2 separate regions of the Homo sapiens genome follow, and region 2 is linked to region 1. Evidence: fine-mapped expression QTL. A gene starts in region 1. The other region holds a variant in brackets. All regions are shown on one strand. Distances are between the middles of the regions. Region 1 holds the start of GGT7 (gamma-glutamyltransferase 7). Region 2 overlaps ACSS2 (acyl-CoA synthetase short chain family member 2).

What was found. PIP is the estimated chance that this variant, and not a neighbour inherited with it, causes the effect.
Region 2: its variant is fine-mapped to the expression of GGT7 in whole blood (INTERVAL, PIP 0.99).

What each region holds. Positions count from the first base shown.
Region 1 is chr20:34,861,754-34,878,210 of GRCh38, reverse strand. GGT7 (gamma-glutamyltransferase 7) reads left to right here and starts at 5,355. Exons shown (of 15, transcript NM_178026.3): 1 at 5,355-5,564; 2 at 14,663-14,898; 3 at 15,246-15,397. The coding sequence starts at 5,396. It overlaps ACSS2 (acyl-CoA synthetase short chain family member 2), which reads right to left and starts at 1,599. Exons shown (of 18, transcript NM_018677.4): 1 at 1,388-1,599. The coding sequence starts at 1,565. RefSeq lists silencers at 1,311-1,740, 1,821-1,960, 5,184-5,473 and enhancers at 2,231-2,280, 2,301-2,380, 14,627-15,178.
Region 2 is chr20:34,884,387-34,900,843 of GRCh38, reverse strand. All of the region lies in intron 2 of ACSS2 (acyl-CoA synthetase short chain family member 2), which reads right to left. Among named protein-coding and RNA genes, the nearest start is that of ACSS2, 16 kb to the right of the region's middle. The variant C/G (reference allele first, on the strand shown) is at 7,730.

The DNA of each region.
Region 1 (16,457 bases):
GTAATCACAGCACTTTGGGAGGCCAAGTAAGGAGGAAAGCCTGAGGCCAGGAGTTCAAGACCAGCCTGGGCAACATGGCAAAACCTCGTCTCTCCAAAAAATACAAAAAAGTAGCTGGGTGTCATGGCGTCCGCCTGTAGTCCCAGCTACCCAGGAGGCTGAAGCGGAAAGATCGCATGAGCCCAGGAGATGCAGGCTATAGTGAGCCTAGAACGGGCCACTGCACTCCAGCATGGGTGACAGAGCAACACCTTGTCTCAAAACAAACTATCTATCTATCTATCTATCTATCTATCTATCTGTCTATCTATCTGTCCTTTACCCAGACTGAGGGCAAGGGTAGGGGGATTTTCCTTATACCTTTTTTTTTTTTTTTTTTTTTTTTTTTTTTTGAGACAAAGTCTTGCTCTGTCGCCCAGGCTGGAGTGCAGTGGTGCTATCGTGGCTCACTGCAACCTCTGCCTCCTGGGTTCAAGCAATTCTCCTGTCTCAGCCTCTCGAGTAGCTGGGATTACAGGTGCCCGCCACCACACCCGGCTAATTTTTGTATTTTTAGTGGAGACGGGGGTTTCACCATGTTGGCCAGGCTGGTCTCGAACTCCTGACCTCAAGTGATCCGCCCGCCTCGGCCTCCCAAAGTGCTGGGATTACAGGCGTGAGCCACTGCTCCTGGCCGATTTTCCTCATACATTTTAACAGACATGGAACCATCTATCAGAACTTCTGAACTATTACTAATACAATCCCAGCCCAAGTTAAAAAAATAAATAAAACAACTTGACATCGTAGTAACTCGTTCAGTCTTATACCGCGTAATTTCCATTAGGATGTCCGATATACTAAAAATAGATCGGGGACTCCATTACTAATCTGAGGACCCCAAGATGGGAACCAGACCCGTTATTGCCCTCAACAGTTCACAGGTTAAGGGTCTCAGGAGGCAGTGGCTGAGCTGGTGTGAAAGGGAAGCAAAGAAAGTTCTATTCGTGGCCCTCCTCCCTTCAAGGCTCCCGTCGCCCCTTAGAGACCCTCTTTTCGCCTCAGGAACTCCCCTTCTCTTCCCATGAAACTTTCACTCTCTTGGCCGACCTCCCCGTCCCAATCTCAAGGAACCTCACTTCTTCCCTCACGGAATCCCGCGTCTCCTCGCAAAAACCCGCATCTCCACCACGGACCCTCCAAGTCTGCAGGGAACTCCCCAGCTCCCATGGAACCCTCGTCTCCTCCCGGAATCCCTTTTCCATTTTCAAAGAACCGCAATTCTTCCTTCACAGAACCTCCATCTCCTCACCCACCCCTCAGCTTCCCAAGGGAGCCCCCGACTCCCCCAGGGAGCCCCCACTCTTCTCCTCACTGACACCCCAGGCCCGCCCGGGCCGGGCCTCACCCCGCGGCTCCTCCACGGAGCGCCGGTGCAGCTCGCGGTAGCGCTGCAGCGAGGGGACGTGCGCGGAGCGGCTGACCTCGGGCGGCGGAGACCAACTCCGCGCCCGGCCTCCGGCTCCAGCTTCCTCCTGGCCCCGGCTCCCGCTGCCGCTCCGGACCCGCTCCTCAGGAAGCCCCATCACGTCAAGTTCCTAGAACCGCGGCCGCCTTTGCGGTCGCGGCGGGTGCCGGGACTGAGAAAACAGGCCGAACTAGAGGCGGGGCCTCCGTAGAGGGGCGGGGCCTGGTGAGTGGGGGAGTGGCTTAGTCTGGCGGGTGGGCGGTGCCAGAGGGGGCGGGGCCGTGTCTGGTTGGGGAGGGATCGAGGTTGGCAAGGACAGAAATACTATAAGGAAAAGTCGAGGGATAGGGGTGGAGCTGACTTGCCGGAAGGAGTGACGCCGTCGAGTGAAAGCAGAAGGGGCGGGGCCGGGTGTGACAAGGGAGAGGGTGGAACCGTGGAGTGCCAAGGGAGGGGCGGGGCCAGGCGGGACAGGAGAGGAGGTGGGCCCATGGAGTGATGGGGAGTAACCCGGCTGGTTGTGACAGGAGAGGAGGCAGAGCCATGGAGTGACCAGAGTGGGGTGGGGTCTTGGAGTGACAGATAAGGGGTTGGGTTAAGGCAAGGATCGAAAGGGAAAGGGATGGACTAAGGAGAGGAGTTGAGTAAGGTCCATCGCGGAGCCGCCCCGTGATCTGATTGCACAGTCCTGACTATCACCAGTTCCTTCCAGGTGACACCCTTCCCTCCAGGTCCCCCCTCTCTGAGCCACACCCACATTCTCGTCCTCCGGAAAAACTTCTCCCATGACCTTGAGGGCATGCTCTGGCGACAGCACCTCCTCTCTGCTCACCCTGGAACCAGCTCAGATTTTCTCCCTCTTATGAGGACATGTCTTCAATCTCCTTGCCTTCACAAATCTCCATCCAGATCTAAAGTACAAGACTCAATAAGTGAAGACTAGGAGACACCTTCAGGTTTTTTGTAATAAGCCCACCTCCTAATTGCACAAATGGCAAACCCAGGAAAGGGAAGGAACTGGTGCACAGTCAGAGAGCAAATAACGACCAAGTTAGGGCCAAAGCTAGGTTCTTTGACTCCAGATTTGGTTTTACTTCCTCGTCAGGCTTGAAGCTAAGGCTTGTAAAATATCAAAGTCTGTGCAAATAGGAAAAATCATTCACATTCTCTTTTTTTGTTGTTGTTTTTGTTTTGAGATGGAGTCTCTCGCTCTGTCGCCCAGGCTGGAGTGCAATGGCACAATCTCGGCTGACTGCAACCTCTGCCTCCTGGATTCAAGCAATTCTCCTGCCTCAGCCTCCCGAGTAGCTGGAATTACAGGTGCACACCACCACACCCAGCTAATTTTTGTATTTTTAGTAGAGATGGGATTTCACCATGTTGTCCAGGCTGGTCTTGAACTCCTGACCTCAGGTGATCTGCCCGCCTTGGGCTCCCAAAGTGCTAGGATTACAGGCGTGAGCCACCACACCTGGCCCACATTCTCTTCTTTCCTTCACAATCTCTTTACTCCACCAAGGGAAACCCCCACCACCACCACCACAACCTGGGCTTAATTACCTCTAGCTTCTCTCTAGCCCCTCCACCCCAGAAAGAAGTCAGGCAGGACCCTCCTCCATCTCTCACCTGCACTCACCACAAAGAAGTGCCCACCTCACCATCATTTCACAGACTGGCTGTCAAGGCAGGAAGGATTCTTAAATATCTAACTCCAAGAGTGATTCTGAGGCCTGAAGCGGGCAGCTCCCACCTCCTGAAGCCTACACAGGCCTTGTGACCCCATCTAGCCCAGCCTCCCTTCCCAGCTACTTCCCTGCACTTTGCCCAGCTGACTGTAAACCTTGCACACCCTAAGCTGAAAAAAAATCTCTCTATGGGAGACCGAGAGTCTGCCCAATCCCAAGGAGGGCGGGAATCTGAGGGCCCACTGAAGGAGTACAGACCTCTTGGGGTGGACATAGACCCCACCAAGGGGTCAGATACTTTCATAAAGGAGATATTCACTGCACCGAAGGGACACACACTTCACTGACAGTACATGGACTCCACTAAGGGAGCACAGATGTTGCTGGGGGTTCTCAGATCTGACTGAAGGGCCCTGGGCCCTGCTAATAGGACATGAATGGCTTTGAAGGGCACTTACCCTAGTGAGGAGACATGGATTTCCCCTAAGAGATACAGAGGATATAGACTTTACTAAGGAGACGTGGACCCTACCAGAGGACTCAAACTCCAGTGAGGAGCTGCCAACTACACTGTGGGAGTGGACATCACTGAGAAGGTGCAGACCTCATCAAGTGGGGAAGGGTCCCACCAGAGGGATTAGACCTCAGGGTAGTGTAATAGACCCTACAAACATCACTGAGGAGATAAGAACTCTCTGGGGTGGGGAAAGGCACAGACAATGGGTACACTTTTTGGTGATAGACTGTTACCCTCCCTGGGCACTCTTACCACACAGCTCTGAGTAGCCCTCTCCTTCCTATCCTCTCTCCCAAGTCCTACACCCAAACCCCAGAGCTGTTCCCGACACACTGCTTCCCCCTCCTGTCTATAGTTGCTACTGCAGCTGCTGTGTATATAGTAGATTTTTCAAGCACTTCAGGCCATCCCTGAGACTGGTCTGGGGTTGGGAAGAGAAAGGATGTGTGTATAGAGGCTTCACCAGCCCCCCTCTCTTCCTGTGGACTTCACAATGAAAGTTTGGAACAGAGACCTCGTAAAAGAAGGAACCTCCCTCATCCTTGGATATGGAGAAGTAGTACAAGCTGTAGTGTGGTTGGAATTTTGGAGTGGAGAGAGGATGGATGAGTTTGGAGGGAATGAATCTACCAGATTAAGGCAATGATGATGATGATGATGATGCCATTTATTGAGTAGGTGCCAAGCCCTATACTAATCGCTTTCCATTCTGTTACTTAATCCTCATGACAACCCTCTAAAATGGGTACTATTATTCTTTCCATTTCACAGATGGGGAAACTGATAGAGAGACTAATTGTCTTGCCCAAGATTACACAGTGTTTGAGCGGTGGCAGAATAGAACCCAGACATCCAGAATATGGAGACCTATTCCCCACCTTGCCCCACTCCTGCCCTACCATCACTACCACCACTCCTTCTTTCTCAAAGTGTCCTTTCCAGAACCACATCAAAAACTCTTAAAATGATGGTAAATATTCAGGTTCCAAGGACCTCATCCCAGCCTACTGAATCATGATCTCTGGAGTGGAATCTGGGGATCCGCTTTCAAAGATCCTAACACACACTAAAGTTTGAGAATGCGGTTGAAAGAGGAGTCAGAAGTGTCGGGGTGCGGGAAGGGATCTGAGGTCAGAGGAGGGATCTGTTGTCCAAAGAGGCGTCTGCAGTCAAAGAGGCCTGGAGATGAAGCATGGGCTGGGGTTTTCAAAAGGGTTTGGGGGTGAAGACAGAGTCTGAAGTCGAAAAAGAGGTCTAAGGTCGGAGGAGGAGTCTAAAATCGGAGGAGGAGGATCTCGGAATTCAAGGAGGGGTCTGGGGTCCGAGGAGTTTGGGGTCAGAGACAGGATCTGGGGTCGAGAGGGATTTGCGGTCAGTGAAAGGGTCTGGGGCCCGAAAAGGAAGCCTGGGATTTGAGGAGGACACTAGCTGTATTCAGGCTGGAAGGAGGAAGGGGTTTGGTCCCTGAGCTGCGTAAAGTGCAGAGCCACTGAAGTCTCGCTTGCCCCGCGCTCTCCCCTCGACCCTGCGCTGCCTTCCTGGCTGTCCATCTACACGCACCTGTGTGCCAGCTGCAGGCTGATAGCGCTGAGCAGACGGGGGCGAGTCAGACCGGGACACGGCCGAGGGCTGGGAGAGGCGCCCCCTCCCGGCTGTCGCGAAGATCAGGCCCCGCCCTCCGCCCTCCCACTCCCCCGCCGCAGCCACTTCCGGCAGGCGCTGCGCTGCTGGGGGGCGCGGGCGAGGATGGCGGCGGAGAACGAGGCCAGCCAGGAGAGCGCCCTGGGCGCCTACTCGCCAGTGGACTACATGAGCATCACCAGCTTCCCGCGGCTGCCCGAGGACGAGCCGGCGCCCGCGGCCCCGCTGAGGGGCCGCAAGGACGAGGACGCCTTTCTGGGAGACCCCGACACCGGTGAGGCCCGCTGACCCCGTCCCTGCCCTGCCTTGGGAAGTCCCCGGTCTTCCTTCTTCTGTGTCAAGCATCCACCTCCAGCTCCATCTCCTTAATTCATCCCCATCTTCTTGGATCTCTCCCTTCTTCTCCCTTGTCTCTGTTAATTATTTGGTGAGGAAGGGGGTGCATTTCTGCCTTGGAGGCGTAGGATGCGACAACGGAGAGGATGCTAGGGACTGCAGTAGAAGGGATTGGGCTTACCTTCTGGGAAGAACCAACTAACGATGAAGGAATGTTGAAGGGGAGATCCTAAGGAACCGCTGTGATCACCCAGAAGAGGGCTTTCTCTAGCCACAGAGGACAGGATAGGAGAAACCAAGTCAGAGACTGCAGCAAGAGGGATCCAATCTGTGCCTTAAGAGAAGTTCCCCACAGCCAGGGATTGTGAGAAGCAGAGGGTCTGGGAGAAGCGGAGAATCTCTTCATGTCTAGGGAGGGGTAAAGAGAATATGATTCCCCTCTGTTGGGTGTTGGGAGACGGAGGCATGGACTGCATGACCTCTCAAAAGTCCTTGGGGACTAGAACGCCTTCACTCTCCTGTGGATTACCCCACCCCTCCCTGAGCCATGGATCTGGCCGGGGTATTAGTAAGGTACTCTGCTCCCTAGGAAGCAGTCTCCAGAATTTTACTGTGTTCCCCTCAGCCCTCTGCTGGAATTGTGAGAAGTGGGGGTAAGAGAAGGAGGAGACAGGGATTGGAAGAGACCTGGGGGCAAAGAGCTCTCTGTGCATTCCTTCCCTGCTGCTCTTCCTCCTAGCCATGTGGCCCAGCTTCATCCTCCCCTCCATTCTTCATCCTTCATCCCCCATCCCTCTGTCCCTGCACGTCACTTCCTGGCATTAGAGCATCCTTCTACCTCACTCTCGCTTCCTCGCAGTGCCTGCACTTGAGCCTTGTCTCTTACCAGCCTGGCAGATGCTGCTTTTCCGGCTTGGCCCTTCCCTAGCTGCTCCCAGCCTGAAAGCCCCAAATTCTCTCCTCCTCTACACTTTCTGGTCATCTGGCCCTGACCAGCAGCCCTTGCCAACCTGACTGGACTGCACTCTGTATGGGGTGGGGGTGAGGAGATAATGAAGATGGAGTTTAGAGGTTTATGGGCGTCAAATGTCAGGGCTGCGGATCAAAACTTATTTTCCAAAGGGAGTGGAATCAGGAGGTAGCAGGGAGAGGAGTGGGAAGATGTGTCATGATGGATATCAGCCTGAAGCTAGGCCTTTTATTCAGTAGTCAGGAGTGAGACTTCTGGTCCTAATACAGCCCTGACTCACCAAGCGACAACAGGCACACCTACCCTGTCCTGGGCCTTAGTTTCCTCTTCCAGCTCAACAGAGAATGCCTGTCTCTCTTGACCTAGAGATTGGAACTGCCTGACATGTTTTCTTCTGGCCCTCTGTAAATGTCTTAGCATTTACCAAAATCTATGATTATTTATTTGTGCAATTATCTGATTACTCCCTGTCTGTAAGCCCCATGAGGGCAGGGATCATGATTGTTTTGTTCACTCTCCTTTCTCCAGCATCAAGACCTTATCCATAGGCCGGGCGCGGTGGCTCATGCCTGAGGTGGGTGGATCACTTGAGGTCAGGAGTTCAAGACCTGCCTGGCCAACATGGTGAAACCCCATCTCTACTAAAAATACAAAAATTAGCTGGGCATGGTGGTGGGTGCCTGTAATCCTAGCTACTCGGGAGGCTGAGGCAGGAGAATCACTCGAACTGGGGAGGCAGAGGTTACAGTGAGCCGAGATCACTCCACTGCACTCCAGCCTGGGTGACAGAGTGAGACTCAGTCTCAAAAAGAAACAAAAAACAAAAAACAAAACAAAATACACTGGCCGGTGTGGTGGCTCACACCTGTAATCCCAGCACTTTGGGATGCTGAGGCGGGTGGATCACCTGAGGTCAGGAGTTCAAAAACAGCCTGGCCAACATGACAAAACCCCATCTCTACTAAAAATACAAAAAAAAAAAATTAGCCAGGCCTGGTGGCAGGTGTCTGTAACCCCAGCTACTCAGGAGGCTGAGGCAGAGGTTGCAGTGAGCGAAGATCGCGCCATTGCACTCCAGCCTGGGCAACAGAGTGAGACTCTGTCTCAAAAAAACAAACAAACAACAACAACAAAAAAAACCCTCATCTCTATTTATTTATTGGGCACTCAATAATTGTTGAATGAATAAATGCATGAGAGAGAAGATCTCAGGATGAAAGAATGGTAGGAGAGAGGATGAAAGAATGGTAGGAGAGAGCAAGTTCCAAAACCTCAGGGAGTATTTTGGGAAGTTCAATACAGGCTCTGCCCTCACCCCTGTATGGAAATCCAGCAGAGATCCTAGTCATCTGAGCTTCTGGGAGTTTATACCTTATGCCAAATTTATGTGTCAGGTTTGTGTGTTGCCATCATTTCAGTGTAATCATTTGAATGCCATATCTCCCAATCCTACTTCCAAGCCCCAAGGCTTCCTCGGTTCACCTGGACCAGACTACAGGCTGACATGGCCTCCTGTGTTCTCAACCTGGTGGTACCATCTAGTGGCACAGCACCATCCTCTTAGCCAGGACCTTGGTTGTGCCCAGCTAGCCTCTAGCCTGCCATTCCCTAAACCCAAGTGCCAGGCACCCCACATCAGGCTCTGTGGGAAAGAGAGCTAGACAGTGATCATTCCAAGGTTGGGAAATACTTTCTTTCTTCTGAGCTCCAAGCCCTTGTGTTCCTTTCTCTCCCAGGCCTGTGTCTCCAGATGTCCTGCAAGTGCCTCATCTATAGCATGTTCTATTTTGAACTCATCATATCCCTTCCCCATGCACCTGCTCTTCCTCCACTGCCATTCTCCATTAATGACACTGCCAGTCACCCAGTCTCCCAATAATGAATGGCATGCTGGACTCCTCCTTTTCTTCTCATTTCCAAATGGTGATCAAGTGCTCTCTGCACCCCTCCTAAGTATCTTCCAAATTCCTACTCATCATCCCTGTCATCACCACTGTAGACTAAGCCACCAACCTCTCTTATCAATATTATTTATAGGCTTCTAGCTACTCCTCCTGCCTCCTCCCTCTTGCCCAGTCCCCACCCCAATCCATCCATCGCTTCTGGTCATGTCACTCCCTGGTTCAGACATCTTTGGTGATTCTGCCGGGCATAGTGGCATACACCTGTAATCCCAGCATTTTGGGAGGCTAAGGTGGGCAGATTGCTTGAGCTCAGGAATTCAGAACCAGCCGGGGCAACATGGTGAAACCCTGTCTCTAGAAAAAATACAAAAATTAGCCAGGTGTGGTGGTGCATGCCTGTCTGTAGTCCCAGCTACTCGGGAGGCTGAGGTGGGCAGATGGCTTGAGCCCTGAAGGTTGAGGCTGCAGTGAGCTGAGATTATACCACTGTACTCCAGCCTGGGCAACAGAGTGAGACACTGTTTCAAAATTTTATATATATATATATTTATTTATTTATTTATTTTAGTGATTCTCCCCTTAAGGGAATAAACAACAAGCCAGGGATGACCCTAGCCTCTAGCCAAGATCACTCTCCTAAACTCTGGACTTGTATAATCAATTTTGTTCAGGATTATTTTGTTATAAACCCAGTTTAACTGAGCTACATCCAAAAAGAGAATTTTACTGGGTAGCATAACTGAAAAGTCCAGGGATATGGGGTTTCAGGCATAGCTGGATTAAGGTACCTAAAAAGGAATGGACTTTTCTCCATCTTTTGCTCTGCCTTCTTTTGGTGGGCTTCATTGGCAGAAGGCCTCCCATTTTATTAGGGGCAAGATGCCCCCAGCAGCTACAGGCTTACATCCTACCAACTTAGCAACTTAAGTGTAATAGAAAGAGGAGCCTTTCTCTTTCCCAGTAGTTCCAGCAAAATAACAAAGTTTGGGTCTTATTGGCCTGGCTTTGTTCACATTGCCTGTTACTGCACAGAGGTACCTGTTCTGACTGGCCAAGTCTGAGTTATATACTTTGGTCAGGGATGAGGGAGTTGGCTGAGAGAGGAGAGAGAATGTTCCTTAAAAGAAAATTGAATGAGAAGTGGTATCCAAGCAGATACCAGGGATGAGCCCTGAAGGTAAAAATTAGATATCTACTAGGCCAACTGCCTCCAGACAGCTTCTTATGGTGTCCCACAAATTTATAATAACCAAAATTGAACTTGTCATCTTTCTCCCAAAAGACTTATTCCTTCTGGTTGCAAATTAATCTTTTTCCAGTATCCTGCTGTTGCTCTTCCCTATCAGTAAAATCAACACTGTTATTGCCCTAGCTGTTCCACAGTGCACATAGTAGGTACTCAGTAAATATTTTTATTGTATAAATCAATAACTTTATGATGGACTGGTGGAGTAGAGAGTCTTGAATAGCTATGATAGGGACATGTCACCTTTACCTCCTGGATCCTTATATCTGACTGGAGAAAACAAATTAAACCATACCTAGGGCCGGGCACAGTGGCTCACGCCTGTAATGCCAACACTTTGGGAGGCCAAGGCGGGCGGATTGCTTGAGGCCAGGAGTTTGAGACCAGCCTCATGGCCAACATGGTGAAGCCCCATCTCTACTAAAAATACAAAAATTAGCTGGGCATGGTGGTGCATGCCTATAATTCCAGCTTCTTGGGAGGCTGAGGCATGAGAAATGCTTGAACCCAAAGGCGGAGGTTGCAGTGAGCCGAGATTGCGCCACTGCATTCCAGCCTGGCAGGAAGATTATCTCTCAAAAACAAAGCAATAAGTACCAAGAAATAGCAACAAAAATTAGCTTGTAAGGTTGGTTTCTGAGGGTAGAAATGGCTCTTGATGCCATGTGGAGCAATGGGAAGGAGGCTTTCTAGTTACACAGACTCTTGGTCCTGCCACTTATTCATTTTATTTTATTTTATATTTTACTTTAAATTTTTTGAGATAGGGTTTCACCCTGTCGCCCAGGCTGGTGGGCAGTGGCTCACTGCAGCCTCGAACTACCAGGCTGAAGTGATGCTCTTACCTCAGCCTTTCGAGTAGTTGGGACAACAGGTGCACACCACCATTCCTGGCTAATTAAAAAAATTTTTTTGTAGAGACAGGAGTCTTGCTATGTTGCCCAGGCTGGTCTTGAATACCTGGGCTCAAACAATCCTCCCACCTCGGCCTCCCAAAGTGCTGAGATTACAGACGTGAGCCACCAAACCTGGCCCACTTACTCATTTTATGACCTGAGATGGGCAATATCACCTTTCTTGGTCTTAGTTTTCTCATCTGTAAAGTGGCGAGAGTGGGACTTATTTCATAAAGTCTTGGGAACACTTCAATAAAGGAATATATGTAAAATGCTTAATATGTAGTCAGCATCAATAAATATAAGTTCAAAACCCTTTCCCACACTTCTTTTGAAACTTCTAATGCCGGGTGCTGTGGCTCACGCCTGTAATCCCAACACTTTGGGAGGCTGAGGCGGGATGATTGTTTGAGCTCAGGAGTTTGAGAACAGCCTGGGGAACATAGCAAGACCTTGTCTCTATTAACAACAACAGCAACAGCAACAACAACAACAACAACAACAAGACATTTCTAGGGGCCAAGGAGAGTTCTGTGCCTACAGTGGGTGTTTAACGTCTGTTTGTTTGGATGAATTCCAGTTTTATTTACAGACTCTGTGATGCTGATGTTGAGGGTTAGAGGCAAGCATTATGAAGTGAGGGAGAGTCTCAGAAGATAACCTTTTTTTGAAAATAAAGTTTAAAAACAGCAGGGTGCGGTGGCTTATGCCTGTAATCCCAACACTTTGGGAGGCTGAGGCAGGCAGATCACCTGAGGTCAGGAGTTCAAGACCAGACTGGCCAACATGGTGAGACCCTGCCTCTACTAAAAATATAAAAAATTAGCTAGGCGTGGTGGCATGTGCCTGTAATCCCAGCTACTCAGGAGACTGAGGCAGGAGAATCACTTGAACCTGGGAGATGGAGGTTGCAGTGAGCCGAGATTGCGCCACTGCACTCCAGCCTGGGCGACAGAGTGAGACTCTGTCTCAAAAACAAAAACAAAAACAAAAATTACATGTTCATGATAAAAAAAAAAAAAGCAATAGTGAGGAAGAATAAAAAAGTCCCCTTTCCCATTCCTATCTCCCTGTAATTTTTCCTTTTCATTTCAAAATATATGTGTTAATTTTTTTTAGAGACAGGGTCTATCTATGTTGCCCAGCCTGGAGTGCAGTGGCTATTCATATTGCAATCATACTGCAGCTTTGAACTTCTAGACTCAAGTGATCTCCTGCCTCAGCCTTCTGAATAGCTGGGCTTACAGGCATGCACGAGCACTCCCGGTTTATGTATTGATTTCTAAAAAGGAAATAGATATAAGTGGTAAAAATTTCAAACCAAAAAAACTCCCACCCCATCTCATTCCCATCTTCAGTATCCTTTCCCAAGAGTAACTTCTGTAATAATTTATAAACATTTCTTGCATATATCATCATTTTATCTATATATTTGGTTTCTTATTTACACAAAAGATGGGACTGTGGATCATGAAGGTCTTTAAACACCACAAGGAGCTTAGATGTTTATTATGTTGGCATCAGTGAACCACGTATTTTAAACAGAACAATAAAATGGTCAGTTTTTAATATTATCACATAGACTTTTAAAGGGGTTATAGTCCTAGTGCATAGTAGCAGGTACTAAAAAAATTGAATGAATAAACTTTAAAAAACATATTGTGAGTACAGCATGAGGTCAAGGTAAAGTAAAGACTATTTCTTTACTGTTCACAAACACCTAGGACCTTTAGGCCATTTAGGGACCTGGGTTCACAGCTAATAACACTCAGAGGAGGGAGCTATGGGATGGAAGAGGGTCTCAGCCCTGGTCAAGGTGGAAAAGGAATAGAAATAACTTGGAGTGAGTACCTACAGTGCACTGGGTGCACATCACCTCATGGAATCCTTGTACCCCTATCCCACCAGTTAGGGATTAGTTCCATTACTAGAATGAGGAAGGTGAGGTGCATGACTTGACTGACTTGTCCATAGCCACCAGCAAATAGTGAGCTTTCAGTTCTCTCCTACCTCCACTCTTATCGTCCTCCAGTTTGTCTCCAGACAGTAGCCAGAGGGATCATTTTAAAACACAAAACAGGCCGGGCGCAGTGGCTCATGCCTGTAATCCCAGCGCTTTGGGAGGCTGAGGTGAGTGGATCACTTGAGGTCAGGAGTTTGAGACCAGCCTGGGCAACATGGCGAAATCCCATCTCTACAAAAAATACAAAAATTAGCCAGGTGTAGTGGGGCATGCCTGTAGTCTCAACTACTCAGGAAGCTGAGCTGAGGTGGGAGGATGGCTTGAGCCTGGGAGGCAGAGGTTGCAGGGAGGCAGAGGTTTCAGTGAGCTGAGATGGTGCCACTGCACTCCAGCTGGGGTGACAGAGCCAGACCCTGTCTCAAACAACAACAATAACACACAGAACAGATGGTTTCACATTCTTGCTTAAAACTCTCTAGTAGTGGGCTGGGTGCGGTGGCTCACACCTGTAATCCCAGCACTTTGGGAGGCTGAGGCAGGTAGATCACCTGGGGTCAGGAGTTCGAGACCAGCCTGGCCAATATGCTGAAACCCTGTTTCTACTAAAAATACAAAATTACTCAGGCATGGTGGCATGTGCCTGTAATCACAGCTACTGGAGAGGCTGAGGCAAGAGAGTCGCTTGAACCCAGGAAGCGGAGGGTGCAGTGAGCCAGGATTGTGCCATTGCACTCCAGCCTGGGCAACAAGAGCGAAACTCCATCTCAAAAACAAACAAAAATAGCCTCTCGAGTAGTGACCTCCCATAGTCCTTAGGGTAAAACCCAAGCTTCTCCCCAGGCTAGTAGAGCCCCACATATCTTCCTTTTTTTTTTTTTTTCTTTTGAGACAGAGTCTCACTCTGTCACCCAGGCTGGAGTGCTGTGGCGCGATCTCGGCTCACTGCAACCTCCACCTTGTGGGTTCAAGTGACTGTCATGCCTCAGCCTCCCAAGTAGCTGGAATTAGAGGCACACATCACCATGCCCAGCTAATTTTTGTATTTTTAGTGGAGCCGGGGTTTCACCATGTTGGCCAGGCTGGTCTCAAACTCCTGACCTCAAGTGATCCACCCGCCTCGGCCCCCCAGAGTGCTGGGATTACAAGATTGAGCCACTGCGCTCAGTATGTATCTGGCCTAGCTTCCACCCTTACTACTCTTTCCCCATGCCTGCTACACCAGAGCCGCCCAGGCCTTGGTTATTTTTTTTTCTAATGTGCCAAGCTCATTCCCACTTTAGGGCCTTTGCATCCACTGTTCCCTCTTTCCAGAACATTCCACACACATACTCTTTGCTCTACATTATAGCTGGCTCCTTCTCATCCCTTAGTTTTCAGCTTAAAAGTCACTTCCTGAGAGGCCTTCCCTGATTTCTGCAGCTAAGGAATCCTCCCTCCCCTACCACCATTATTCTGTCATTTCCTCCTTTTTCTTCATAGCACCTGCCACAACTTGTAATTATAGACTCCTTTGCTTATTGGCTTTTTCTTCCAGGGCTCTATGAACCACATGAGGGCAGGAACTATCTGTTCCCGTCCCCTGGCACCTAGCATAGGGCTCTCCATATTTAAGGAATGAGTGAGCTGATAACTGAAGTGAGGTTGGAAGGCAGGGTCCCTCCACTCTGTTTATGTAGCTGCCTCCTTGCATGGAAGGCTGGGCCCCAACTGGGGCAGGATCCGATTTCCACTGAGGGCTGGAACCCCCACCCCACCCCCCAGGAAGTGTTCTCAGCCCTGGGCCCTGGGTGCCAGGAAATTTGGCCTAGGTATCAGGGAGGGGCGGGAATCCAGCCTCCCTGCTGCCCAGCTGGGGAGGTCCCTGTCTCTTCCTAGCCGGGCACCGTTGCCCCGCCTGTCCTGGGGTGCACGCGAAAATGAGGAAAGGTGAGTAGTGCTAGCCAGTGCGGGGATTGTGTGGCAGGGGCGGGGCAGGGAAAGCGCTGAATAGTCCCACCTGGAGGGTGGGCAGGGCCAGATAGGAGATGCCCAGACCGACCCCGGCTGCCTGCCCGCAGACCCGGACTCCTTCCTGAAGTCTGCACGGCTGCAGCGGCTGCCATCGTCGTCGTCGGAGATGGGCAGCCAAGACGGGTCGCCGCTACGCGAGACGCGCAAAGACCCGTTCTCCGCCGCAGCGGCCGAGTGCTCCTGCCGCCAGGATGGGCTCACGGTCATCGTCACGGCCTGTCTCACCTTCGCTACCGGTGTCACCGTGGCGCTGGTCATGCAGATCTACTTCGGGGACCCCCAGGTGAGGGGGACAAATGGGGAGGGGGAGGAAACTGGGGAGTGGGGAGTGGGGTAATGTTTGAGGAACTGTGGAAACTGGGGAATGGCTGAGTGGTAGAAGGGGAGAGAGGGTGGTGACTTGGGAGAGGAAGGTCCCAAAGAGAGGAGCTCCAGGGCATGAGGGAGACAGAACAAGGAAGAATAAGGACAGATCCATTAGGAGGCACTTGGGGTAATGAGGGCAGAGTCAAGGCAACAAGGGGGCAGGGCTTCGACCTTCATGCCGCGTAGAGTTCTAGGGCTAGTGGAGGTGCCCTAGGGAGGTGGACAGCTCCTCCTGCCCCCACCAAGTCCTCTTTCCCCTCCCAGATCTTCCAGCAGGGTGCCGTGGTGACCGATGCTGCCCGCTGCACTTCACTGGGCATCGAGGTGCTCAGTAAACAGGGATCTTCTGTGGACGCAGCGGTGGCAGCAGCCTTGTGTTTGGGTATCGTGGCTCCACACAGTTCTGGCCTGGGCGGGTAAGGAGCAGTGGAGGTCGGGGTCCCCCAGGCCTACTTCTTGCCTCCAGGTCTGTAGGCCTCATGTGCAGCACTCCTAACTTAGGGAGAGGGGCTTTTGGGCCCCAACTCCTTGCATTTTCTCTTTCTACACCAAATTTCACCCCCTTCTCCCTGGATGGAGTCAGAAGAGCAAAGCTACCTTATGGAAAACCTGAAAGTGTTTTCAGAAGCTTTTTTTTTTTTTTTTTAACTAGAAAAAGAAATTTGTAAACCATAAATTAAGATGCACAGGTGGAGGTATACTGTCATCAATTAAGGCAGAGATATTTCAACTTCTAGGATCATAAATCCCTATGGGTCTGATGAAAAGCCTTGCACCCTCTGTCCTCCAAAAATACACCCTGCACTAAGAACTCTTAGAAGTTACAAGCTGGCCACCCATGGGCAACACCCAGCACACAGACTGGTTTGGTTTAGACACTGAACTGTCTTAAAATTTTGTTTGCTTTTGTTAAAAAGTTGAGAATTTTCATAAAAATCCAGATTTCCAACATCTCTTGAACAATCGGGAAATCCGATAACAACTTGGGCCCGCATTCTCACATGGCTGAAGTTACCTGGCGTGGAATAGAAGCTGCTTCCCATGATGGGCATGCACTGTCCAGTTTGCCGTAGTTTCTACCACTTCCTCTTCTCTGTCCTGCTTGCCTTAGTTTGTCATTTGGCTGTGGGCATTTAAGTTTGCAGCCCCCATCTTAGACGTAAATAAGCTACAGAAAAGGAACAAGCTGACAAAGTTCCTATCTTGGCTCCTGTAAGACCAGCTCTCCAAGCCGTACCAAAGAAATTCCTCTTTTGGTTTTGCATGTTCTATCCTTACATAATCCAGTCCTGGGGGAGGGGCAAGGGACATACCAAGTAGACAGGTGCAGGAAGCTGGCAGGGGTCCAGCTCTGGTCCAGGGTGGGGGCATGGGGCAGAACATCCTGTTCTGCCAGTCTCTGGGCTTTTCCTAATCAGGGATTAAAGTCTCCAGTGACAGGATAGAAGAGGTCCATGGACCCTGGGTCTCCAACCC
Region 2 (16,457 bases), 23 kb before region 1:
GAACTGTGAGGTTGACAACTACCAAGGATGGAATTTTAGTGTACTTAACAGAAATTCATCATTCTGTTTGGTTTTCCCTTAGTTCCTTAGAAAAAGTTCCTTTTGAAAACACCACAGATTTCTGGTTTCAAATGATATCTAACTTGTAGACCCTAATGCAGCCTCACTCAGCTCCTGATTCAAAAACTGGAATCAACTGTCATCCTATCACCCAAATTTGGACGGGCTTTTCACCAACTCAAAACTGATGAAACTAGAGTAAATAGCCTCAATCAGTGGACTATTTATGAAATTTCTCCCTAAACATTGATTCCTCACCTATTGAGGGAGCCAGGACTGTACCGGCCAGTCTTCAAAAGGCAGTTAATGGGCCAGGTGCAGTAGCACATGCCTGTAATCCCAACATTTTGGGAGGCCAAGGTGGGAGGATCACCTGAGGTCAGAAGTTCGACACCAGCCTGGCCAACATGGCCAAACCCCATCTCTACTAAAAAAAAAAAAAAAAATTTAGCCGGGCATGGTGGCACGCACCTGTAGTCGCAGCTACTTGGGAGGCTGCACATGAGAATCTCTTGAACCTGGGAGGCAGAGGTCGTAATCAGCCAAAATTGTGCCACTGCACTCCAGCCTGGGCGACAGAGCGAGACTCAGTCTCAAAAAAAAAAAAAAAAAAAAAAGGTCAGGCATGGTCAAGGAGATACAAATCAAAATAACAATCAGATCCCACTTCACACTCACTAAGATGGCCATAATCAAACAAACAGACAGTAACAAGTGCTGACAAGCATGTGCAGAAATTGGAAACCTCATACATTGCCGGGAATATAAAATGGTTCAGCTACTTTGGAAAACAGTCTGGCAGTTCCTCAATAGGTTAAATATAGACTTACCATATGACTCAGCAATTAAACTCCTAGCTATATACCCAAGAGAATTGAAAACATACATCTACACAAAAACATGTACCCAAAGGTTTGTAGTAGCGTTATTCATGACATCAGAAAGTGTAAACAACCCAAATGTCCACCAATTGAGGAATGAATAAAGAAAAATGTGGGGCCAGGTGTGGTGACTCATGCCTGTAATCCCAGCACTTTGGGAGGCTGGGGCGGGTGGATCACAAGGTCAGGTGTTCAAGACCAGCCTGGCCAACATGGTGAAACCCCGTCTCTACTAAAAATACAAAAATTAGCCGGGCGTGGTGGCCAGTGCCTGTACCTCAGCTGCTCGGGAGGCTGAGGTGGGAGAATCGCTTGAACCCGGGAGGCGGAGGTTGCAGTGAGCCGAGATCATGCCATTGCACTCCAGCCTGGGCGACAAGAGCAAGACTCCATCTCAAAAAAAAACAAAAAAGAAAGAAAAGAAAGAAAAAGAAAGGAAGGAAGGAAGGAAGGAAGGAAGGAAGGAAGGAAGGAAGGAAAGAAAGAAAGAAAGAAAGAAGGAAAGAAAGAAAGAAAGAAAAAAATGTGATAACGTTGAGAGGTGACAGCGTGCTGGCAGTCCTCACAGCCCTTGCTCGCTCTCGGCGCCTCCTCTGCCTGGGCTCCCACTTTGGCGGCACTTGAGGAGCCCTTCAGCCCACCGCTGCACTGTGGGAGCCCCTTTCTGGGCTGGCCAAGGCCGGAGCTGGCTCCCTCAGCTTGCAGGGAGGTGCGGAGGGAGAGGCCCGAGCGGGAACCGGGGCTGCGCACGGAGCTTGCGGGCCAGCTGGAGTTCCGAGTGGGCGTGGGCTTGGCAGGCCCCGCACTCGGAGCAGCCGGCCGGCCCTGCCGGCCCCAGGCAATGAGGGGCTTAGCACCCGGGCCAGCAGCTGCGGAGGGTGTACTGGGTACCCCAGCAGTGCCAGCCCACCAGCACTGCGCTCCATTTCTCGCCAGGCCTTAGCTGCCTTCCCGCGGGGCAGGGCTCGGGACCTGCAGCCCGCCATGCCTGAGCCTCCCCCACCCCCACCGTGGGCTCCTGTGCGGCCCGAGCCCCCCCGACGAGCACCGCCCCCTGCTCACGGCACCCAGTCCCATCGGCCACCCAAGGGCTGAGGAGTGCAGGCACACGGCGCAGGACTGGCAGGCAGCTCCACCTGCAGCCCCAGTGCGGGATCCACTGGGTGAAGCCAGCTGGGCTCCTGAGTCTGGTGGGGAAGTGGAGAACCTCTAAGTCTAGCTAAGGGATTGTAAATACACCAATCTGCACCCTCTGTCTAGCTCAGGGTTTGTGAATGCACCAATGGACACTCTGTATCTAGCTACTCTGGTGGGGCCTTGGAGAACCTTTATGTCTAGCTCAGGGATTGTAAATACACCAATCGGCACTCTGTATCTAGCTCAAGGTTTGTGAACACACCAATCAGCACCCTGTGTCTAGCTCAGGGTTTGTGAATGCACCAATTGACACTCTGTATCTAGCTACTCTGGTGGGGACTTGGAGAACCTTTGTGTTGGCACTCTGTATCTAGCTAATCTGGTGGAGATGTGGAGAACCTTTGTGTCTAGCTCAGGGATTGTAAACGCACCAATCGGCACCCTGTCAAAACAGACCACTTGGCTCTACCAATCAGCAGGATGTGGGTGGGGCCAGATAAGAGAATAAAAGCAGGCTGCCCCAGCCAGCAGTGGTAACCCGCTCAGGTCCCCTTCCACACTGTGGAAGCTTTGTTCTTTTGCTCTTTGCAATAAATCTTGCTGCTGCTCACTCTTTGGGTCCACACTGCTTTTATGAGCTGTAACACTCACTGTGAAGGTCTGCAGGTTCACTCCTGAGCCAGCGAGACCACAAACCCACCAGAAGGAAGAAACTCCGAACACATCCGAACATCAGAAGGAACAAACTCCAGACGTGCCACCTTAAGAGCTGTAACACTCACCGTGAGGGTCCACGGCTTCATTCTTGAAGTCAGTGAGACCAAGAACCCACCAATTCCGGACACAATGTGATACAGTTATACAATGCAACATTATTCAGCAATGTAAAAGGATGAAGTACTGATATATGGTATAACATGGATGAACTTTTTTTTTTTTAAGACAGTCTCACTTTGTTGCCCAGGCTGGAGTGTGGTGGCATGATCTTGGCTCACTGCAACCTCCGTCTCCTGGGTTCAAGCAATTCTCCTGCCTCAGCCTCCCAAGTACCTGGAATTACAAGCATGCACCACCATGGCCGGCTAATTTTTATATTTTTAGTAGAGATGGGGTTTCACCATGTTGGCCAGGCTGGTCTCAAACTGCCAAGCTCAGGTGATCCACCAACCTCAGGTGATCCACCCACCTCAGCCTCCCAAAGTGCTGGGATTACAGACATGAGCCACTGCATCCGGCCTATAACATGGATGAACCTTGAAAACATTATGCTTAGTGAAAGAAACCAGACACAAAGGGCCACGTGTTATATGATTCCATTTATATGAAACATCCAGAATAAGGCAGAGCCTTAGAGACAGAAAGTAGATTAGTGGTTGCCTAGAGCTGGAGGAGAAGAAGTTGGGGGAAAATGAAAAATGACTGCTAATGAGTATTGCACTTCTTTTGGGGGTGATGAAAATTTTCTAAAATTGAAAGTTGTACACCTTTGCAAATATATTAAAAATATGAATTGTATACTTTAAATGGGTGAATTATATGGTATAAATTATATCTCAATAAAAAATATAATTGCAATTTTGATTGGAATTGCAATAAATGTACAGATTAATTTGGAAAATACAGACATCTTTACAAACCTTCCTTTCCAGAAAGGTTGTAACTATTCATTCATTAGAAAGATTAAGCACTATTCATTCATTCATTCTTGCCTCTTTCTATTTTTTTTTTTCCTTTTTTTGAGACAGTCTAGCTCTGTTGCCCAGGCTGGAGTGCAGTGGTGCTATCTCGGCTCACTGCAACCTCCGCCTCCCGGGTTCAAGCAATTCTTATGTCTCAGCCTCCCGAGTAGCTGGGACTACAGGCCCCCGCCACCACAGGCTAATTTTTATATTTTTAGTAGAGACAGGGTTTCACCATGTTGGCCAGGCTCTTGACCTCAAGTGATCCGCCCGCCTTGGCCTCCCAAAGTGCTAGGATTGCAGGCGTGAGCCACCACGCCCAGCCTGTTTATTTCTAAAGACAACACTTGGGCACTTATTTTTTTCTAGCACTAGAGTCCTATGTAGACATCTGTTTCCCTCACTGGATTATGAGTTCCTTAATGGCAGACAGGATATCTTTTTATATGTTTTCTCCTTAGTGCTTACCACAAAGGCCAATACACAGTGAGCACTTAATACATAATTGTAAAATGAATAGATAAAAGAATGAATAAATAAATGAACAAACTTATCTCTGCTTATATGACCAGCTGGATCCAAGATGATCAAAGAGAGAAAGTATGGAAGGAGAGGGGATAAGATAGGATACAGATAAACAAGATAGATGCTGGACAGGCAGAGGAAAGACAAGAGTGGAATTTGTGGAATGGATTTTGGAATCATGTCAAGAAGTGTTTCTTGAGATCCTACAGTGGGCTCAGTCTGGGACTCTGTGAAGAGGCTGGAAGAGAACCCTGGAGCTGAGGTTCAGAGTATGGGACTCCTGCCCTGCAGTCTGGGCTATTATTGTACCCTGTCCTCTTGCCAGCTATTTTCAGGCCTTGATCCAAATACCTTTTGCATGTTCCCCTTGGCCAAAGTGGCTTTGGTGCCCGATGGATTGTGTACCTCTTCTCTTTTCTCACTGCCTACATGCCTACTTACAGGAGGGGAATCACACACTTGTTCCTACCATCCTGTGTCCCATGCTGGCCTTACCTATAACAAGTGAATGAGGGCAGAGCATTTGGAATGCAGCCCAAAAGAGGAATATGCCTAGAGCAGAAACAGAAAGTGGAAAGAAAATCCAGGGGCATCATTTTATGTGTACATCAAGTCTCTCAAGTATAATAGACACATGCAAAAATATTCATTACAATGGTTCTCTATTATCTAGGTCAAAGGCAGTTTAAATCATTAGTCCTCAATCTACGGTACTCTATTCCTGTGAGTACCTGCACAGAAAAATATGAAGAGAATAAATGTCTAGATCCTCAACTTCCATATGTAATATTTCCTAACAATGATCTGTCTGAGTTGGTTCTTCTTTCTCACTCTCTTTTACAATTACCCTTCTCCCACGTTAAACAAGAATGTCATAGCTCTCTCTTATCTCAAACTTTATTATGGTACAATGACAGGGTATGAACAAAGTGTTAAACAAAGGGACAATTTGAGAATGTATAACTTCTGAGGGAGAGCCCCAAGAAAGCAAATCAATGAGAGCTTCTCTGAGAAATCAGTATTGAAAGAATTGGCATCTTAATTCATCCACGTAACAAACTCATGGCAAGACTACTTGCCTTATATCTCTTAGAATTACAACTCAGAAGTGAAACAGTTATCACAGAGTCATATATTAACATATTTATCTTAAGAAAGAAGTTAGGCAATTTCTAACACAGTAGATCTGATTTGGCTGATTATGTTGGGTGATAACTGGCTATGCAAAACAGGTTGTATGGTAGATGTCTTCTATAAATTATATGAGCTAAATTTGCAGTGCCAATGTTTTGAAAGAGGTATAACCTATATGTGCATATATATATATGTGTGTATATAATATGTAAAATGTTTTGGAAATTCGATTTTTTGCAATTTTTAAATCTTATGATAAAATTTTTAGATATGAACATTATGTCAAGAGTTACATAATTTTTCAAAATTCTTTTAGGTATATAATTTTAAGAGTTTAAGGTTATTAATCTAAATAATTTTTCAATGGTACTTTGTCCCTCCCCCCAACATCAGAATTGTCTGAGGAGGTTACAAAAATACAAGTCAGAGGTCTTATCCTCTGGAGATTCTAACTCAATAGTCTGGGATAGGGTCCAGAAATCTGGATTTCTAACGACATCCTCAGGTAATTATTTACATAAACTAAAATTGGGAAACCCTGGCTCTGAATATGGAGTCATCAGACTAGATTGTTTACCCCTAATTCAATGTATAATTTACACAAACTTTCCCCTCTCTCTGAGCCTATTCTTGTGGTCTTAGCAAGTACAGCATGGCTATCCATATAAATAAAATTAGATTTCTGTCAGTTTGTTTCCCATCATATGAAAACAACTAGACAGATTTTTAACAAATCCAGATGTTGTATTAGGACTCCCTAACTTCTTTTTTGAGACAGGGTCTCACCCAGGCTGGAGTGCAGTAGCACGATCACCGCTCACTGCAGCCTCAACCTCCCAGGCTCAAGAAATCCTCCCACCTCAGCCTCCCAAATATCTGGGACCACAGGCATGCATGACCATACCCAGCTAATTTTTTATTTATTATTATTATTTTTTGAGACAGAGTCTCACTCTGTCACCCAGGCCGGAGTGCAGTGGCATGATCTTGGCTCACTTCAACCTCTGCCTCCCAGGTTCAATCGATTTTCCTGCCTCAGCCACCCGAGTAGCTGGGATTACAGGTGTGAGCCACCACGCCTGGCCTAATTTTAAAATTTTTTATAGAGATGGGGTCTACCTGTGTTGCCCAGGCTGATCTCAAACTCCTGAGTTCAGTGATCCTCCCTCCTCAGTCTCCCAAAGTTCTGGGATTACAGGCATGAGCCACTGTGCCTGGCAGATTCTCTAACTCACTATATGTGGCAGTTTGGAGGACACCTCAAGTAACCATCCTCAAAAGCAGCTCAGAAACTAAAGTTCAACAAGAACCCTCTGTGACTGCTCCTTTGGATAGATTTTCATGTATTAAAATATCATGGTCAAAAAGAAGCAAACGTTGGTTTCAAAAATTAGTCTCTGGTCAAAAAAATCACACTTAGAAATGCAGGTGTTCATATGCTCTAGAGATGTTTTCTGTACGGGCAACTCTGTGTGTAAAGTATTCCAGGGTGAATAGTTTCAGGGTTGTATTTATTTTATTTAAATAAAATAATGATGCTCCAAGATGGTAAAACCATAAGGTAACCATGATAATAAACCATGATAGTAAAACCATAAGTAGACCAGACCTTAGAACCCTAGAAGAGGGCTGTTCTAAAAACTTTATATCCCAAAAAGAGATAATAGGTAGTCCAAGGCCCTCCTATATCTGAGATTTTGCAGTCTTCTCTTGTACCTTCTCTAATTCAAAATTCCAAGCTGGCCAGGCACAACGGCTCACGTCTGTGATCCCAGCACTTTGGGAGGCTGAGGCAGGAAGCTCACCTGAGGTCAGGAAGTTGAGACCAGCCTGGCCAACATGGCAAAACCACGTCTCCACTAAAAATACAAAAAAAAAAAAAAAAAAATTAGCTGGGCATGGTGGTGTGTGCCTGTAATCCCAGCTACTCAGGAGGCTGAAGCAGGAGAATTGCTTGAACCCAGGAGGCAGAGGTTACAGCGAGCCAAGATCACACCATTGCACTCCAGCCTGGGCAACAAGAGCAAAATTCTGTCTCAAAATAAAAATAAAAATAAAATTCGCTGATTGTGTTGGTGCATGACTGTGCTCCTAGCTACTCAGGAGGCTGAGGTGGGAGGATCACTTGGACCTTGGAGTTTGAGGCTACAGTGGGCCACAACTGCACCACTGCACTCCAGCCTGAGCAACAGAGTGAGACAAACAAGGGAAGGAAAGGGAAGGAAATGAAAGGAGAAAGAGGAAAAAGGAAAAGGAGAGAGAAAGAGAGAAAGAAAAGGAAAATCTTAAGTATTATGAGAGATTATAAACTGA[C/G]TGGAGAGTGTGGCTGTCAATGAGGCTAATATAATCTTAGATATGTAAAGTGAAAGAATGGTAATAGTACCCTGTTCAAGTCAGACCATAGCTGGAATACTTAATGAGAGATATTGGCCAACTAAAGTATATCCAGGGGAGACCGACATGGTTGTTTAGGAAGCCACATCATATGAGGAACCTGAGACTGTGGACTCAGTATCACTTCATTTATAAAACAAGAACACTGGACTAGATCAGGGGTTTTCAAACTGAGCTTTGCAAATCCCTAGGGATTCCAGACACACACCTCACAGGGAACACAGTAACAGGGTGGAGAAGCCTACAGAATGTGGCTCTAGGCCTCCCATCCATGCTCCAACCAGATCAGCACCGCTGTTACCTGTTTTAGGTATAGGGTTTTGGCATAATAATAAAAATAGCTAATACACTTTTTGCCAAGCACTAAGCCCTTTATATAGATTATTCCAATTCTTCCTTACAACAATCTATGTCACAGGACTTATTATTTCCATTTTACAGACATGAAAATTGAGGTTTAAAGAGGTGAGGTAACTTGCCCAACTAGTAAGTATTAAGGTAGAGATGTAGGAATTGAATGAGAATGACCCAGAATCAGAATGATAACTTATGGGGATTGTTAGGGATTGGGATATTGGTACTACAATTCCTGATTTGTGTGGGAATTGGACCAAATGACCTCTAAGGACTGAAACTGAGAGTCTTGAATTCTCAGAGGTTCAAGATGTGAGACACCGGGGATCATTACCAGTGCCCAACCTCTCCCAAACCAAATCCAGGAAGTGGGGGAAGGCCCATCCTCAACTCCACGCCTTCTGAGTTAATTGTTATAAATGTGGGGCTGCCATAAGGCAAGAACCCCTGCTCCCATCTGACCACCTAGTATCTTCAAAGGAGAGGAGGCCAGTTCCTCCTCTCCCCTAACTTCTCCCAGAAATGTAGAGAATTTATCCAGGCAGTTCCCTGCATTTGTGACAGAAATTCTGAAGGTCAGTGCCAGAAGTAACTTAAAAAAGAGTCTTGTACATCCCTAACAGTTTATAAGTGGGAAAAAGAAGGCTTAGAAAAGGGCATTAACTAAAGCCATTCTTTTCATTAAATGTTTACTGAACATGCCAGTATAAGAAGTTGGCCCAGACACAAACTCAGGTAGCTGATATGAAGCTCAGGACACTGAAACAGGCCTCAAGACAGAGTCTTCAGAGCAATACATTTATTATTCATATGCCACCTACTTCCAAAAAAAGTGACTCGGAAAGTACAGCCTACTTGTCTCATTTTCACCACTTTAGGGAGGTGTTCTGTAAAGTGTCAAGGGTCATAAAACTCAGGGAGAAATGAGAGAAGCAGGTTAGAAATCCACCTTAAACATGAAATCCTCCAGCTCACCTCCACAATCTGCTCACCTCATTCAAGTGGAGAAAGACTGTTCCCAACAACAGGTATTTCCCATGTATCTCCCATTAGCTTTGAGTATTTATGCTACCAGCCACAAACAACCCTCAGGCAAGAGGAACAGACTCCTTCCTCAGCCCCTTCATTCCAAACCTTCTAAAATTCTTGCTTTATGGTGTCAACATCATTATAGAAAATAAATTAAATAAATAAATAAATAAACAAAATCCTCCCTCTTTCTTACCATCTCAACAGAAATTCAACCCGCCTACTGAGTCACCACAGAGTCACTACAGGTTGCAACAGAACTTCTAAAAACTGCTTCCTCTCTTCAGAAACAGTCATAGAATTCTGGAAGATTAGAGATGAAAGGGACCTTGCAGAGTATCTGTAGTTCATTTCCCATCATGCCCACAAAGAGAAGGCCCAGAGAGAGGAAGAGAATGGTCTGAAGTCATCTTTCTCAAAATGAGTGTTTTTCTTTACCAAATATATCTTAATCAATAGATATGCTGTTGTGAAACTAGTAAAGATATAGATGTAGTGTGTGTATTTGAGAAGGTGGGGATGGTTGAGAAGGTGAGGCAAGCCCATGTTTTGTCAAGGAGATTTGTCAAGGTGATATGGAAAATCAGAGCCCTAGAGTATATTGTCCTATCATTCATGTCCAGGGACTCTAAATTATCTAGGTCCATATTCTGGAGTTCACTTCAGTGACATGGGGAGGTAGGGACTTTTTTTTTTTTTTTTTGGCCTCAAATACACACACACACATATGCCTACAAGGATCTGGGGAGCTCCAAATATCATACTATGGAATTCATATTCAGGAGCATACAAGGATCCTGAGAGCAGAGCTTCTGTCCTAGGGTCAATCCTAAAGTTGCCTTATTCTCAAAAGCTCCAGTTCCTGAAGAAGGATTGAAATATACTGAGAGCCATGAAGAGACAGTAGTGATTTCAGCTGAGGGTGAGAATTTAGGTGGCTCAGAGATAACCACAGCCTTAGGCAACCCAAAGCAAAGCAAACAATGGAAGGAATCAACGATACCAAATGTGTTGGGCTTTGGTTACTGGGGACTTCTAGAAAAAGTAGAGACTGAGTAGCTAGTATAAATGATCAGAATATCAGCCATCAACCACTCTTTCCACCCTCTCCTTATAAACCTTTTACTTAATCCCCCAAATCCCCGACAGTCCTCCAGTGTTCCTTCAACTAGCTAACTCCCTTCCACTCCTTCAGCTACCTCTAACACCCTCACTGACTCTCTCTCCCTGAATGACTATCCCAATACCTTGTCACTGATCATTTTCCCATACATATACACATGCACCCCCACTAACATATTTATCTGCCACACCAGGGGGAAGACAGCATGAGAAAGTTGGAACCAAAGTCTGTATTTTGCAGGGAAAATTTAGCCCTTGGAGCAGATGAACGTGTGCCTTCAAAAGAGGCAGTGTTTATATAGACTAGGAGAATCCTTGACTCTTTCCTTTCACTTTCTCCCTGTCTCTCCACCATCTACACACCTAGTTACCTGTGCTGGTTTCTTTCCATAATGAAAAAAATAGCTAATACACTTTCTGCCAAGCACTAAGCCCTTTATACAGATTAAATTACTGTAAAATTATCAAATCACTCTAAAATGTCATTGTTCCATTCCATTCCCACCAGCAGCATCCTAGTTCAGGACTGAATAACAAACTCTCAGTTCTCTGGCTTCACATTCCCATTTCCATATGTATCCAGATGAATCCTCTTAACCTCTGCTGCGACTTCCGCTGCATGCAATCCTTTCACAGATCTCCAAAAATAGTCAAGATCTCCCATACCTGGACCTCATCCGCTGTTGATGACAACCGTAACTCCTCTTTCACTCCCCAGACCCAATCCAAGTCAGCAAATTCCATAGGTTCTTCATTCAAAATAGATCCAGAATTTGACCACATCTAACCATCTTCATGACTACTACTATGGTCTAAATCACCACAATCTATCACCTGGATTTCTACAATAGCCTCCTAATTGGTTACCCTGCTTCTACTTTTCCCCTTCTACAGTCTCTTCTTAATATAAAAGATAGAGCCTAAATAGAAGCCAAATCATTATCACGTCTGTGCTTAAGATTGTCTAGTGGTGTGGGTGGGCATGGTGGCTCACACCTGTAATCCCAGCACTTTGGGAGGCCGAGGCGGGCGGGTCACAAGGTCAGGAGTTTGAGACCAGCCTGGCCAACATGGTGAAAACCTGTCTCTACTAAAAATACAAAAATTGGCCAGGCGCAGTGGCACACGCCTGTAATCCCAGCACTTTGGGAGGCCGAGGAGAGTGGATCACGAGGTCAAGAGATAGAGACCATCCTGGCTAAAATGGTGAAACCCCATCTCTACTAAAAATACAAAAAATTAGCCGGGCATGGTGGCGGGCGCCTGTAGTACCAGCTGCTCGGGAAGCTGAGGCAGGAGAATGGTGTGAACCCAGGAGGCAGAGCTTGCAGTGAGCGAAGATTGTGCCACTGCACTCCAGCCTGGGCAACAGAGCGAGACTCCATCTCAAAAAAAAATAAAATAAAATACAAAAATATAAAAATTAGCCAGGCATGATGGCGGGTGCAGTGAGCCGAGATCGTACCACTGCATTCCAGCCTGGGCAACAGAGCGAGACTCTGTCTCAAAAAAAAAAAAAAAAGATTGTCTAGTGGTTTCCCATTTTACCATGAATAAAAGGCCAGAGTCTACATTGGCTTTCAAGATGTGACATGATCTAATATCCTGCTGGTGTCAATACTACTCTCTCTTCCCTAGCTCACACATTTTAGCTACACTAACTTCCTAGCTAGTCTTCAAACACACCAGGCAGCAGCACATTTGTTCTCCACCTACCTGGAACATTTCCCCTCCCTACCCCAACTATCTGCGTGGCACACTCCATACTTTCCTTCAGATCTCTGCTCAAATGTCATATTTATCAAAAGGTTCTTTCCTTATCAGCTCCCACTCTGCACTGTCACTTCCCTTTCCCCTGACTCTGCTCTATATTTTTCTATAGTACTCATCACTACCTGTCATATACTTACTGGTTTCTATGTTTATTGTCTGTCTCCTCAAGCTGGACTATAACCTCCATGAGGGCAAGAACTTTGTTTAGAATAGTGCCTGGCACTTAATAAGTTCTTAGTAAGCATTTATTGAATGAATAAATTGTTCCCTGCATAAACCTTTTACTCTAAACATGCTTGGTCTTCTCACTGTTCCAATATAAATAATTGTGGTGGCTAATATTTAAGTGCATTCAATGTGCCAGGAATTTGACATGTTTTTTTTTATCCTATTCAATCTTACAAAACTGACAACTCCATGAGATAAAAGCTATTTTTATCCACGTTTAACAGTTGAGAAAACTGAGGCTCAAAGAGGTTAAGTAACTTGCCCAAGATCAGACAGCTAATTAGTGGCAAAAATAGGACTCAAACTGGGTTAGTCTGACACCAAAACACCCATTCTCCTAATCTTTATATTATCCTGCCTCCCTATAAGGCTTTTTCCTTTCTGTGAACTATTTGTGTAAGTAGCTCTTTGCAGTTTGGCCCATAATTCTTTTCAGGCTTTTTTTTTTTTTTTTTTTTTTGATGGAGTCTTGCTCTGTTGCCCAGGCTGGAGTACATTGGCTTGATCTCGGCTCACTGCAACCTCTGTCTCCTGGGTTCAAGCAATTCTCCTGTCTCAGCCTCCCAAGTAGCTGGGATTACAGGAGTGCGCCACCACACCTGGCTATTTTTGTATTTTTAGTAGAGATGGGGTTTCGTCTTGTTGGCCAGGCTGATCTTGAACTCCTGACCTAAGGTGATCCGCCCGCCTCAGCCTCCCAAAGTGTTGGGATTACAGGCGTGAGCCACTATGCCTGGCCCAGGCTGTTTTTATGTAGATCTATTTGTTTTGTTTTATTTTGTTTTTGAGATGGAGTTTCGCTCTTGTCGCCCAGGGTGGAGTGCAATGGCACGATCTCGGCTCACTACAACCTCTGCCTCCTGGGTTCAAGCCATTCTCCTGCCTCAGCCTCCCAAGTAGCTGCAATTACAGGCACCTGCCACCACATCCAGCTGATTTTTGTATTTTTTAGTAGAGACAGGGTTTCACCATGTTGGCCAGGCTGGTCTCGAACTCCTGACCTCAGGTGATCCACCTGCCTTGGCTTCCCAAAGTGCTGGGATTACAGGCATGAGCCATTGTGCCCGGCCAATCTATTTGGTCTTTCCAAATAGAATGTAAATTCCATGAGACTAGGGTCTGGGACATTTAAACCTAATAACACATTTTATCTGGTATTTTAAAGTTAATTTAAATCAGTTTGGCTAATGTGGCTAATTTCTCTTTTTATCTGTCACAGCCAAGTGCTGGACTACTAGAATAATGAGGTAGTGTCACGAGTGAAAAAAAATAGTTGACTAGGAGTGAGAGTATCTGGAGATTAGTCTCAGTTCTGTCTTCAAACAGGTGTATGACCCTTAGGCAAATCACTTAGCTTCTTTGTCCCTTAATCTACCAATCTTTGAAGAGAGTTGGCCTAGATGGACTCTAACGGTCACTTCAAGTTCTAAAAATACTACTATTCCGTGAACATTTGCAATGTGTCAAGCCAAAAGTAAAAGGCCAAATTATTCCTTAATATGGTTCTATTTTGGATAATGGGAGTACTTTCCTAAGAGCACCATTTCCTTTGTGGATAATTTCAATGACTACACAATGTATGTTCCAAAACAAGAAACTAGCTACAAATGTGGCTTGTTAATGCCACCATAGCTGTCTAAATGACATAAAGTTAAGAAGAAAGCCATAATGTGTTTCTATAAGAAGTATATCAATTGGAGCGAATCACAGAAAAGATGTCATTTTTAAAAGCATTAGTAAGAATTAGAACAGAAAGAAGTGAGCTCCAAGAGGGAGAACTTTGGGAGGAAAAGGAGGATTTCATATGATAGTGAGATTGGAAAATATTAAATATATGATAAAGGCTTAAATAGTACAAAAAGAAAAACGGTAAGCAATTATTATTATTACTTTTATTGTTTTTTGAGACAGAGTCTTGCTCTGTCACCCAGGCTGGAGGGCAGTGGTGTGATCTTGGCTCACTGCAACCTCTGCCTCCCAGGTTCACGCGATTCTTCTGCCTCAGCCTCCCAAGTAGCTGGGACTGCAGGTGTGCACTACCATGCCCAGCTAATTTTTTTTTTGTATTTTTAGTAGAGATGAGGTTTCACTATTTTGGCCAGGCTTGTCTAGAACTCCTGACCTCAGGTGATCTGCCCGCCTCTGCTTCCCAAAGTGTTGGGATTACAGGTATAAGCCACTGCACCCAGCCCAGTAAGCAATTATTAACTTCAGAGTAAATAAAAATCCGTACATAAAAGGAAATATAACCACAGTATGCTATTCTTATGTAAACTGATTTTAAATTAACTAGAAAACAGCTATAATTATATTGAGAAGAAGAGAGAAGGAAGTTAGAGAGGTATATAAGAACTAAATTCTTATCTATCGTAGTAAGAAATCAATACTTTCTTTAAAAATGATGAAAAATAGCAGTATAAGCATATCATTTAAAAATATAGAGGCAACAAAGGGATGTAACCACATATCCGGCATATTTGCACTTTACTTTCTTATAATAAAATGCAATTTATTTGTATTTTGCTTTTGCTTTACTATAAACATAAAATAATTAAATAGTAATTGCCTATATGGTACTTGTCTCCTGCCTTTTTACCCCCATATCCATAATGCCTAATGCAGCCCTGAGTATCCAATATCTTTAACAATTCTTGTTGAGGGAGTGACCAATGTAAAAATGGAGTGAGGATGTCTTGTTTTTGAGTTACAGAATTTTGCACTGGAAGTAAATTTAGAGATTATTTAATCCAGTGCTTCCCCAGTGGGTGTTCCATGGAATACTGCTTCTTGTGATATCAATAGCATGCTGGCAAAAAGTGTTTGGGGCTTCAATAAATTCAGGAAATCCTATGTTAAACAAAATTAATCAGGTATCTCTAATATAGGACATCTTGGAGATTTTACTATGCTAATACACATTGGGAATCTCACACAAAGGCAATTTATTATGTAGTGTTTCTCAGACTCAATCATTTTATGAATTAAGAAGCCCCCTACTAATATCTCCAGTAATTAGCAGTTCCTGAAGCATTCTTTGGAAAATGCTGATCTAGTCTACTCCTCTCATTTTACAGATGGGGAAAGAGAGGCTCTCCAGAGCCTGTTCAGGTAAGGGTGGTAGGGGAACTGGTGTCTCTAGAAAGAAAGGGCCTCAGGATTCTGGAAAACTCTCCAGTGATTGAAAACTCTGGCCTGTGTATTCTGTTTTCCATTAGGCACCTGAGTTCTTTCAAACCAGGGAACAAATTCAGATACAAGCATTTCCTTTTATGATCTTTTTTTTCCTCTTTTTATTTTTCTTATTTTATTTTTATTACTATTACTTTTTGAGACAGGGTCTTGCTCTGTTGCCCAGGCTGGAGTACAGTGGTGTGATCTGTGCTCACTGCAACCTCCGCCTCCTGGGCTCAAGCAATCCTCCCACCACAGCCTTTCAAGTAGGTGGGACTACAGGCGTGCACCACCATGCCCAGCTAATTTTTGTCTTTTATGTAGAGAGGGAGTTTTGCCATGTTGCCCAGGCTGGTCTCGAACTCTTGAGCTCAAGCAATCCACCTGCCTTGGTCTCCCAAAGTGCTGGGATTACAGGCATGAGGCACCATGCCCAGCCTATTTCTTTCTTTTTTGTGAAATAGAGATGGGGGTCTCACTGTGTTGCCCAGGCTGGTCTCAAACTCCTAAGCTCAAGCAACCCTCTTGCCTCAGCCTCCCAAAGTGCTGGGATTACAGGCATGAGCCACCATGCCCGGCCTCCTTTGAAGATCTTTAAAGGTTTTCTGATCTTTAAAGAGCCTGGGAAATGAGCCCAAGTGTTGGCTGGAGCTCAAGCATAAAGCTCTAGAGCAGAAGCTAAAGAGAGTCTCAACAGACACAATGGACAGTGAATTTCAGTGACAAACTGGCCCCCAACTAAGCAATGGTAGTATAATAATAGACCACTCACACCTATACAGTGTTTTCCAATAAACAAATAAGTGCTTTTACAACGTTATCTCATTTGATTCTTACAACAATCTAGAGAGAAAAACAAGGATAGAATTATTATCCCCATTTTATGGAAGAGGAAACTGACTCTTAGTTAAATGCCTTGTCTGTGGTTATATAACATGTTAATGGCAGAGTTGAAAGGAGAACCTAAATT